2 separate regions of the Homo sapiens genome follow, and region 1 is linked to region 2. Evidence: fine-mapped expression QTL. A gene starts in region 2. The other region holds a variant in brackets. All regions are shown on one strand. Distances are between the middles of the regions.

Region 1 (5,355 bases), 48 kb before region 2:
CCCCGGCCGCCTGGTTCCAGGCAGGTCTGCACCTTGAAGTAGGCGACCTGCAGGTAGTTGTAGGGGCTCCGCTTGCGGAACTCCAGCTCCATCTCTTCGCTGAGCGAGTGGGCGGCCGGCGGCCCGAGGCAGCGGCGCAGGCAGGCAGCGCGACGCAGAAGGCCCCCGAAGAAGCTCAGGTCGCGCAGGGCGGCGGCGCCCGAGGCCTGGGCCGGGCTGGGGGACCAGTCGGGGTCCAGCTCCCACGGGAAGTCGGCGGCACACTGGGTGCGGCAGCGCAGGCGAAGGGCGCGGAGGGCTGCCCGGGAGCGCAGCGCCCGTTCCATGCTCAGGACCACCCCGGGCCAGTCCCCGCGCGCGTAGGCTGCGGTCCCCTCGGCGAAGAGCAGATCAGGCGTCACCATGCCCCATCCTGCCTCGGACTCGACCTCGGCTTGGGAGGCAGCGGCCACGACAGCCAGCAGTGTGGTCAGCAGCTTCAACGCGCGTACCGCCATCGCTCCCTCAGACCTAACGGAACCGCCAGCCACCCGCCACCAAGGCCGGAGTCCTACCCCCGGCGAAGGCCCGCCCCCGGGCGAAGCCCCACCTTCCAAGCCGGGCGGCGCATGCCCACGAGGCTTGCACCGCCTCTTTTCCTTTCAGTCAGCCCGGATCCCCCCACCGGCCCTCAGCGAATCCCGGCGCGTCAGCCGGAGCCCCGCCTCCGAGCTCAGGCCTTGCTCAGTCGAACTGACGCCCAGTAGACAAGAAAGACGGAAGCTCCGCCCACGCGCCTTTATGCGCAGGCTCTTCCTACTCGCACAGCCCAGGGAGTGGGGAGGATAAGGCGCTGTCATGGAGGACGCCGCCGCGCCGGGGCGGACCGAGGGGGTCCTTGAAAGGCAAGGAGCGCCGCCAGCTGCAGGCCAGGGAGGTATGCGGGGCGGGAGTCAGCAGGGGGAAGTCAGCTCCCGCGAGGCAGCCGGTCTCGGGGCTCCGCGGGAGGCCGACGGCGGGAGCTCACGGCTTGTGTTCCTGGGTGTGTGTCGCAGGAGCCCTGGTGGAGCTCACCCCGACCCCCGGCGGCCTGGCCCTGGTGAGCCCCTACCACACCCACCGGGCCGGGGACCCCTTAGACCTCGTGGCGCTCGCAGAGCAGGTGCAGAAGGTGAGGAGGCGCGGCCGGGGCAGCGAATAACCATCTTCGTTCACGTTGTACTCTGCGTCTTTCGGCTCAGACCTCACTACCACCTATGGTGGGGGTGGCATTTGCTCTTGTCTCCATTTTACAGACGAGTAAAGCCGACTGTCATTGTGAGTCGGTGGCCTGATTCGAATGACCTTCTGGGACCAAAGGTTCCTCTAACTGCAACTTGAGTGCCCATAATCTTCCTTCGTGGGAAGGTTTACACAACACTTTAGTGTTCATTATTTCATTTGCACCTTAGGACAGCCTTGTGAGGTAGGCAGTACAGAGTTATTCTTCCCATTTGACACAAAGAAAAGTTCTTCGGGAAGTTTCAAGGTCCGCTTATTTTAAGCTGCTTCCCATAAGATCTTTGTTACCTGAGAGTTTAAACATCTTCTAGCAGGGCAAGGACTCCAAGTTTAGTCCTCATTAAACACAGTATTCCCAAGCCCAGTGTTTATATATGGATGGCCAAAATAAGTCAAATAAGGAGGAAATGTGAAATAATGGAAAAAACACTGGAAGTTTGGACACATGAGTATTAATCCCACTTTTGATACTAACTTGCAGTGCGACTTAAGGCAGATTACTTCTCTCTGGACCTCAACTATTTTATCTGTGAAGTGAAAGGTTTGAAGTAGTAGAGCTCCAAGATCTAAAGTTTTGTCATTATTCAATGAAAAACCAGATTCCTTCTTATCTCTTATCAAGACTTCCAGTTGTACACCCTCTTCAGTGTCCACAGATGGAGGGTCCTGCTGTTTTAAAGATTATCATGGCCCCTTATCCCTGTATACACTATCAGATTTGGCCTTGATTATGTTCCAGGGTCTTTGCTTTGCCCAAAATTATTTAATGTGCTCAAATTCCCTCACATCTCTTTTTTTTTCAATGATCCTAGAAATCCTTCGAATCCTTTTTTTTTT[A/T]AAATTAAGAAAAATTCAGATACGCAGAAAGCTCCTTTAATTCAAAACTTGGCTTTCTTCTTTTTGAAGAGCTGGGGAGCAAAGTGCAACTTTTATTTATTAAGAGAATATGCATCTAGTTAATCAGATTACTCTTATTGGGAGGGAGGTTGGCAGGGACAGAATCTTGTGCACACAACGTATTCATGTGCTATTGAATGACTATCGTGTTTATTACGATGGCCTGAACAGATGGAAGAAAGAACACAGTTTTTGTCTTTCATCCTATAATCTTATGAAATACAGAGGATGCATTATTATGCTGCCTCTGTTTCCCCAATACAATCTGTATTTGAGAAGCTGAAGAAAAAAAAAACTTTAGAGACAAACAAATTGAATCAAACATATTAACTATCTAAAATGTACTTTTTGGCCAGGTGCCGTGGCTCACACTTGTAATCCCAGCACTTTGGGAGGCCAAGGTGGGTGGATCATTTGAAGTCAGGAGTTCGAGACCAGTCTGGCCAACATGGTGAAACCCCGTCTCTACTAAAAGGTGTGGTGACTCATGCCTGTAGTCTCAGCTACTCGGGAGGCTGAGGCATGAGAATCGCTTGAGCCCAGGAGACAGAGGTTGCAGTGAGCCGAGATCGCACCACTGTACTCCAGAATTGGTGACAGAGTGAGACTCTTAAAAAAAAACAAAAAAATGAGGCTGGGTGTGGTGGCTCACGCCTGTAATCTTAGCACTTTGGGAGGCTAAGGCGGGAGGATTGCCTGAGCTCAGGAGTTGGAGACCAACCTGGGCGACATGTGAAACCCTGTCTCTACTAAAATACAAAAAATTAGCCGGGCATGGTGGTGTGTGCCTGTAGTCCGAAGCTACTCTGGAGGCTGAGGCGGGAGAACTGCTTGAACCTGGGAGGCAGAGGTTGCAGTGAGCTGAGATCACACCACTGCACTCCAGCCTGGGTGACAGAGCAAGTCTAAAAAGAAAAAAAAATGGTGGTGGGCTGGGTGCAGTGGCTCACGCTTGTAATCCGAGCACTTTGGGAGGCCAAGGCGGGTGGATCACGAGATCAGGAATTCAAGACCAGCCTGGCCAACATAGTGAAACCCTGTCTCTACTAAAAATACAAAAAATTAGCCGGGCATGGTGGCAGACGCCCGTAATTCCAGCTACTCATGAGGCTGAGGCCGGAGAATCACTTGAACCTGGGAGGCAGATGTTGCAGTGAGTGGAGATTGTGCCACTTCACTCCAGCCTGGGTGACAAAGTAAGACTCCGTCTCAAAAAAAAAAGTACTTTTTTAGCAAGACTGACCCAGGTATTGGTGTGTGTTCAGAAAGCTCAGGAGGCCTGGTATTAAGGCATGAATTTTGGAATCTGACCTGTGTTCAGATCCTTTGCTGTTTATTATCTGTGAAACCTTGGACAGGTTGCCTCATGTCTGTGAGTCTTAATTGCTAAAATGAGAAAGTGAGGTTATCATCTCCAGCGTCATAAAGGTGTTGTGAGAAGTAAATGAGATGAATGTAAAGGGCCTCAGAGTAGTTGAGGCCAGGGTTAGTGCTTAGTAGTTGTAGGTACTCTTCCCTTCCTTTCTTTTTTATGAGGCTCTTTTGTTTTTAAGTTGTTCGTGAAATATTTTGCATTTTTTTTGTTTGTTTCTTTTTTCCTTTTTTTGGACCTCAGACTAATCCATATTTTGCATTTTATATTAACTCTTCAAAATATAAATTCAAATTTTGTTTATGAGATTTATTGCTAACACCTTAAGAAAAGGGAGGGTTATTATAAGGCCACCCCTAATCTGGAACTACCTTAGCTCTAGAAATACCTACTCTCTCCTTGGCCATATATGGCTCCTCCTTTCTTTCTTTCTTTTTTTTTTTTTTGAGATGGAGTTTCGCTCTTGTTGCCCAGGCTGGAGTGCAATGGCGCCATCTTGGCTCACAGCAACCTCTGCCTACCGAGTTCAAGCAATTCTCCTGCCTCAGCCTCCCAAGTAGCTGGGATTATAGACATGTGCCGCCATGCCTGGCTAATTTTGTATTTTTAGTAGAGACAGGGTTTCTCCATGTTGGTCAGGCTGGTCTCAAACGCCCGACCTCAGGTGATCCATCCGCTACGGCCTCCCAAAGTGCTGGGATTACAGGTGTGAGCCACCACACCTGGGCTTTCATTCTTGGAACAAAATGCAAATTCTTTTACCATGGGCTACAAGACTGCACAATCTGGTCTCTGCTCTCTTTTTAAACCCTGTTCTACACATTGCCCATCACTAACTACTCTTCAGCTGCACTGGCCTCAAATGCCTGCAAACTTTTTTTTTTCCAGCTTTTTTCATGGTCGGTCCTCTCCTTTCATTTAGACCCAAGTCAAATGTTATATCCTTGGTGAGGCCTTCTTGTCTGAAGAAGACCGTACCCTACCCCATCCAAATGACAGTATTATTAAATTGAATTCAAATACCTCTAGGCTACATATACTTTCCAATTCCCCACCACTCCCTATTATTAAACTTCATAAAAATGAAGTAGCTTTTTTACTTAACTCATTTGTTATCTTTAACCTGCTTCTACGACATAATTGTGGTTATTTCCTTCATAACAGTGCATTGTTATGAGTACATATAATATTAGCTTTAATCATCTTTACTTTTTGGTATCTATTACTCACTGGAGCTGTGCTTTAGGTAGCCACTAGCAACATTATGTCTGTTAAGCACTTGTGTTACGTTGTTAGTGTGGCTGAGGAACCGAATTTTGTATTTTATTTGATTTTAATTAATTTGAATTTAAAAAACCTGATAATTACTTCAATTATTGGAACTCAAGTATATTGGAACAATTTGAGTATGTGAATCAACTTTTTCACATATAAATTTTATTAAGTTTAAATACAGATGAAGTATTTCTGATGAAAATTTAGCATCCAAATTGAGATGTGCTGTGAGTACAAAATAAACACTATATTTTGAAGGCTTAATATCAAATGCAAAATATGGATTAGACTGAGAAGGACCAAAAAAAGAAACAAAAACAAACAAAAAATGCAAAATATTTCATTAACAACTTACAAATAGTGATTACATGTTAAAATGAAAATGTTTTTGATATATTAGGTTAAGTAAAATGTATTAGCTGAGCACGGTGGCTCATGCCTGTAATCCCAGTACTTTGGGAGGCTGAGGCAGGCGTATCACTTGAGGCCAGGAGTTCGAGGCCAGCCTGGCAAACATGGCAAAACCCCATCTCTACTAAAAATACAAAAAT
Region 2 (5,376 bases):
TTGCTTGCACCCGGGAGGCAGAGGTTGCAGTGAGCAGAGATCACGCCACTGCACTCCAGCCTGGGTGACAGAGCAAGACTCCGTCTCAAAAAAAAAAGAGACTCACCATCAGAGAAATGCAAATCAAAACCACAATGAGATACCATCTCACACCAGTTAGAATGGCGATCATTAAAAAGTCAGGAAACAACAGGTGCTGGAGAGGATGTGGAGAAATAGGAACACTTTTACACTGTTGGTGGGACTGTAAACTAGTTCAACCATTATGGAAGACAATGTGGTGATTCCTCAAGGATCTAGAACTAGAAATACCATTTGACCCAGCCATCCCATTACTGGGTATATACCCAAAGGATTATAAACCATGCTGCTATAAAGACACATGCACACGTATGTTTATTATGGCACTATTCACAATAGCAAAGACTTGGAACCAACCCAAGTGTCCATCAATGATAGACTGGATTAAGAAAATGTGGCACATATACACCATGGAATACTATGCAGCCATAAAAAGGGATGAGTTCATGTCCTTTGTAGGGACATGGATGAAGCTGGAAACCATCATTCTCAGCAAACTATCGTAAGAACAAAAAACCAAACACCGCATGTTCTCACTCATAGGTGGGAACTGAACAATGAGAACACTTGGACACAGGAAGGGGAACATCACACACCAGGGCCTGTTGTGGGGTGGGGGGAGGGGGGAGGGAAAGCATTAGGAGATATACCTAATGTAAATGACGAGTTAATGGGTGCAGCACACCAACATGGCACATGTATACATATGTAACAAACCTGCATGTTGTGCACAGGTACCCTAGAACTTAAAGTATAATAATAAAAAATAAAAAATAAAAAGAGACTCCATCTCAAAAAAAAAAAGCAATGTGGCAATGTCTAGTAAAATTGAGAATGTACCCAGTAATTTTTCTAGTTAAATAACCTACAGAAATTCTAAGGCAGGTGCCAAAGGAGACACCTAAAAGCTTTTCACTACAGCAATGTTTGTAATAGCAAAAAATACTATAAATAATTTAAATGTGCATCTCTGTAAGAATGAATAAATATACTAAGTAAAATGGATGCATAAAATAGACTATTATAAAAATTAATGAGAATAAACTAAATTCTTATATTGGCATGAATAGTTCTAAAAAACAATGTAAGCAAAATGCAAAATAAAATGCAGGAATTTTATTAATGTAAAAATTTAAAATACTACTGTATATTGTTCAAGGATATCTATTAATATATTTGAATGTAAAAGTATAAAAAAAAGTAGTTGTCCATGGAGAAGTAAAAGGATGTAAGACAGGAAATGAACAAAGCAGACAGATAAACAAAACAAAGAGGGAAAAAGAGACCAGCAAGATTTTCCCTGACATTAAATACTAAAATAAAATACTTATGTCTGTATGTGGCTCAATATTGGCAGGGTAAAGTTTAAAGCTTTTTATTCTCAAGTTGATTGTAATCGTTGAGAGAACAAAGGAACACACTGGTGAGTTTAAAGCTTGGGCCTCTACCTGGCATGAGTAGCTGCTTTCCGCACCAAATCCAGAACATCTGTACTGGGGGTGTCTGACACTTGCGTGCTCTCTCTCATTCTGACCCCTTCTTTCCCCTTACATATCATTTTTTTTCCTTTCTTCCTTCCCTTGGGTCTCTTACCACAAAAGCTCCGCACCAGACTGGGGTTCTGACACTAACTTGGCATGTGATTCTGGGCTGCCACCTCACCATTCTGAACCTCAGTGTTGTCCCCTCTAAACCTGGGAGAACACCCATCCTGCCTGGAGGCAAGTATGGCTCGCTGTCAGTTCTCCTTTCTGCTGTTTCTCTATTCCAGCATCATCTCCAGCAGACTACAGGCATACAGAGCCTCCGCCTTAATCTCACCTCTGCTCTTTGTCTCTGCTTCAGCTCCTGCTGGGCTGATTTCTGTTTGGCCTTCTCAACTCTGCTGACAGATTCTTTAACTTTGGTTTTTTCTTTACGTGCAGGTGGATCCATGGCTTGACTTCTGGATATTTCTTAGGAGGCTCTGATCTGGGTGGTACAGAAAGAGGCAGATCTTCAAAACAAAACAAAACAAAAAATACCCTGCCAGTTACTCCTCTAATCCTTTAGCTCCGCCCCATCCTTTGCCAGGTGAGGCAGAGTGGTCTGGTGGCAAGGGCGCTGGATGTGGGGGAGTAGGAACCGAGTCCCAAGGCCACAACCTCGCTGGGTGTCCCTGGGCAAGTCTCCTCCCCACTTTGAGCCTTAGTTTTCTGTCTGCAAAATGGGTTAAGTGTTTTCCTGGCCTCCCTCCAGGAGCTGCTGTGTGCGGGTGAAATGCAAAGACCCCTGTGAAAGCGTTGCCCACTGTGCGGCGTGCGGCACCCAGCGCGGAACCGTCCTAATGGGACGCTGAGACCCAGAGGGCGCCCAGGGTTTTCCCACTGCGGCCGGCCTAACTCCGCCGCAGCAGCCGCTCCTGGGGCCAGGGGGCCGGGCCCCATAGCCAGCCGGGCCCGCCCCCCACCGCCCGGCCCCCCGACCCCGCCCCGGCCCGCCCGGCCCCAGGGGACGGCCCCCGCCTCCTGCCCTCTTCCCTCTCCTGGAGGAAAATGGCGGTCGCTGGAGCCGCCGACCAAGAGGCTTGGGAGTCTGTACCTTTCCCGACCGGGCCACTGGAAGTTGGAGCCTCCGCCGAGTCGCAGACAACGCCTCCGGGAGGGTAATCCTCGCCTTCCCCCGACCACTGGACCCAGCGCTGCCTGCCCACCGCCCCTCGTCCTGGGCGGGGCCGCGCGCCGGGGGGAGGGGCGCAGGGCCGAGCGCCAGGAGGCTTCCGCCCGCAGGAGCGGCCGCGCGTGCGCAGAGAGGATGGCTGGAAACCCGCGTAGAGGGCGGGGCGGGGCAAGCCGGTGCCGGGGCGGGGCAGGGGCGGAGCCACACCGGGGTGGGTGGTGGTTACGGCTAACCAAAGCTTTTTCCCGTTATATTTTCTGCAACAGCTACTAGGTTTTAGAGGGTGAGATCCGAATCCTGGAATTGGAATTGCTCAGAATTCGAATTCCGAGGCTCAATTTCTTAATTCGAAAAGTGGGGATTGATGATTGCCACCTTCTTCATTCATGAGTTTATTGGGAGGATCAAGTGAGATCCCGTTTGCCACAGTGCTTTGAAAAAGGAAATCTTGACAGAAGTACCAATAGCCAGTATAAATACAGAGAACATTCACGTTCAACTGATTACCGAGGAGATGTAAATTAAAATAGCTGGCTGTAATTTTCCAGGTATTACATTAGCAAGGATTGACAAAAATGATAATAGCTACCTTACATTTGGGCTTACTATATTCCAGGCACTGTTCTTACAGCTTCACATTTATTAACTAATTCCTCATAATAAGTGTGTATAATGTATACGTGTATATTATTATCCCCATTTACACATAAGGGAACAGAAGCATTGAAAAGTTAAGTGAGTTGTCCCGGGTCACACAGCTTCTAAGTGCTGGAGCAAATATTTCAGCCAGGATTCATAGGACAATGGCCTTATCCAAAGTAAAACCCTGTTTGGGTCCACTATTTGTTCCTCTATCAAACTGGCAAGAATTGAAACAACTGATAGATGCTAAGCAAGCAATGAACTCAGCCCAGATGGACACACGCTTCCAGTCAAACTGTAAATCGTTAACAGCCTTTCTGGAGGTCAGTTTAGTACTAGGTATCAAAAGCCTTAAAAGTGAGCACAATGCCCCAAAAAGACAAATACTGCATGTTTCCATTCATATGAAGTATCTAAAGCAATCAAAGTCTAAGAAACAGAAAGTAGAATGGTGACTGCCAGTGGCTAGGAGAGAGGGAAAAGAGGAATTGTTTAAAGGGTATAGAATTTTAGGTTTGTAAGGTGAAAAAGTTCTAGAGATCTACTGCACAATGTTTATTTTTTATTTATTTAATTTTTAAAAAATAGATGGGGTCTTGCTCTGTCACCCAGGCTGGAGTGCAGTGGTGTGATCATAACTCACTGTAACCTGGGCTCAAGCAATCCTCCCACCTCAGCCTCCAAAGTATCTGGGACTACAGGCACACACCATCATGCCTGGCTAATTTTTTAAAATTTTTTTGTAGAGATGGAGTCTCACTGTGTTTCCCAGGGTGATCTGGAAATCCTGGGCTCAAGTGATCCTCCTGCCTCAGTCTCCCAGAGTGCTGGGATTACAGATGTGAGCAATTGCGCCCAGCTTTTCCAAAATTTCTACAGTAAACGTTTATACTTTAGCAATCAGAGGAAAGTACATTAAATGTCTTTTTAAAAACCCTATACAAATGCTGATTCGATTATTATTAATAAAAGTAACCAAGTCAGAGTCTATTTCAGAAATCTTGATGTAGTACTGGTATTTTACATTTGTGTCACATGGTATGGTTTATAACGTTCATATAAGCTATGAACTAGATTACAGCTGAAGACACGGCAGGACCTTTAGAAGCCAGCTAAAAACAAACCAGCTATAGGGAATGGAGGAGTGGAAAAGCCACATGGAAGACTGGAAAAGTAGTGGTGCCACTGAGCCACTGTTGAAAGTGGAGAAGGTGTGATGAGTTGGTTTGGGAAACGGTGAGGAAGAGGATAAGTTAGGAGCGTGTGTGTGTGTGTGTGTGTGTGTGTGTGTGTGTGTGCGCGCGCGCAAGAGAGGGACCGAGAGAGAGAAAGAGCTAGATTACGCTTCAAGTGGCAATAGGCAAGAAGAATTGTCCAGTGAGCAATTAGAAGATTTCAGAAAAGAACGGAACTGGAGATACCAGTTTGGGATTCTACATTCTTTATTGGGAAGGTGAAGGTTGGAGCCAGGAGGGAGTGAATGTTGAGGCTGAACACTGTCAAAGTCCCCTCTCTATTCTTTCCATGAGTTTATGCTTTGTCTGTCTCTTTTGTGTCTACCAGTGGACTCTTGGCCAGGCTGCAGAATTTCCTGGTTTGTTGAATGACTAGCAAGAGTTTATAGTAATATAACTAGAATATTTTTACAGTTGAGGTATATACTACACTAAGATTATATTCACTTTATTGAATAATATTTTTTCTAGAGTCAAAAAATTATCTATTTTTATTTGCTTAATGATCTATGCATCCCTTGTTTATTTTTTATTTTCAGAGGTGGGCTCAAGTGATCCTCCCGCTTCAGCCCCTCAGTGGCTGGTACTACAGATGTGAACCAGGTCATTTACCAGTGTCTTTTTTTTTTTTCTTGGCAGCATCCCTCCTTAGACTCATCCTCTCTTTGCTCCAAACTCCTCTGCTTAGCCTTGCTTCACAGCTCTTGTCCTAGGATTAGGGACCTAACCACATTCTGGGGATTCTCTTCTTGTTTCTCCT

Which allele goes with the higher level. Positions count from the first base shown, and alleles are read on the strand shown. Sizes are in standard deviations (SD) of each study's normalised expression.
For the expression in fibroblasts of the gene that starts at base 2,869 in region 2, allele T in region 1 goes with a higher level than allele A (small effect, 0.32 SD a copy in GTEx).

Evidence for each region.
Region 1: its variant is fine-mapped to the expression of SVBP in fibroblasts (GTEx, PIP 0.96).

Annotation. Positions count from the first base shown.
Region 1 is chr1:42,766,475-42,771,829 of GRCh38, forward strand. P3H1 (prolyl 3-hydroxylase 1) reads right to left here and starts at 554. Exons shown (of 15, transcript NM_022356.4): 1 at 33-554. The coding sequence starts at 497. C1orf50 (chromosome 1 open reading frame 50) reads left to right here and starts at 775. Exons shown (of 5, transcript NM_024097.4): 1 at 775-916; 2 at 1,035-1,150. The coding sequence starts at 838. RefSeq lists silencers at 193-302, 923-1,062. The variant A/T (reference allele first, on the strand shown) is at 2,098.
Region 2 is chr1:42,814,529-42,819,904 of GRCh38, forward strand. SVBP (small vasohibin binding protein) reads right to left here and starts at 2,869. Exons shown (of 3, transcript NM_199342.4): 1 at 2,662-2,869; 2 at 1,903-2,052. The coding sequence starts at 2,016. It overlaps ERMAP (erythroblast membrane associated protein (Scianna blood group)), which reads left to right and starts at 2,594. Exons shown (of 12, transcript NM_001017922.2): 1 at 2,594-2,725. RefSeq lists silencers at 1,743-1,812, 2,373-2,572, 2,723-3,012.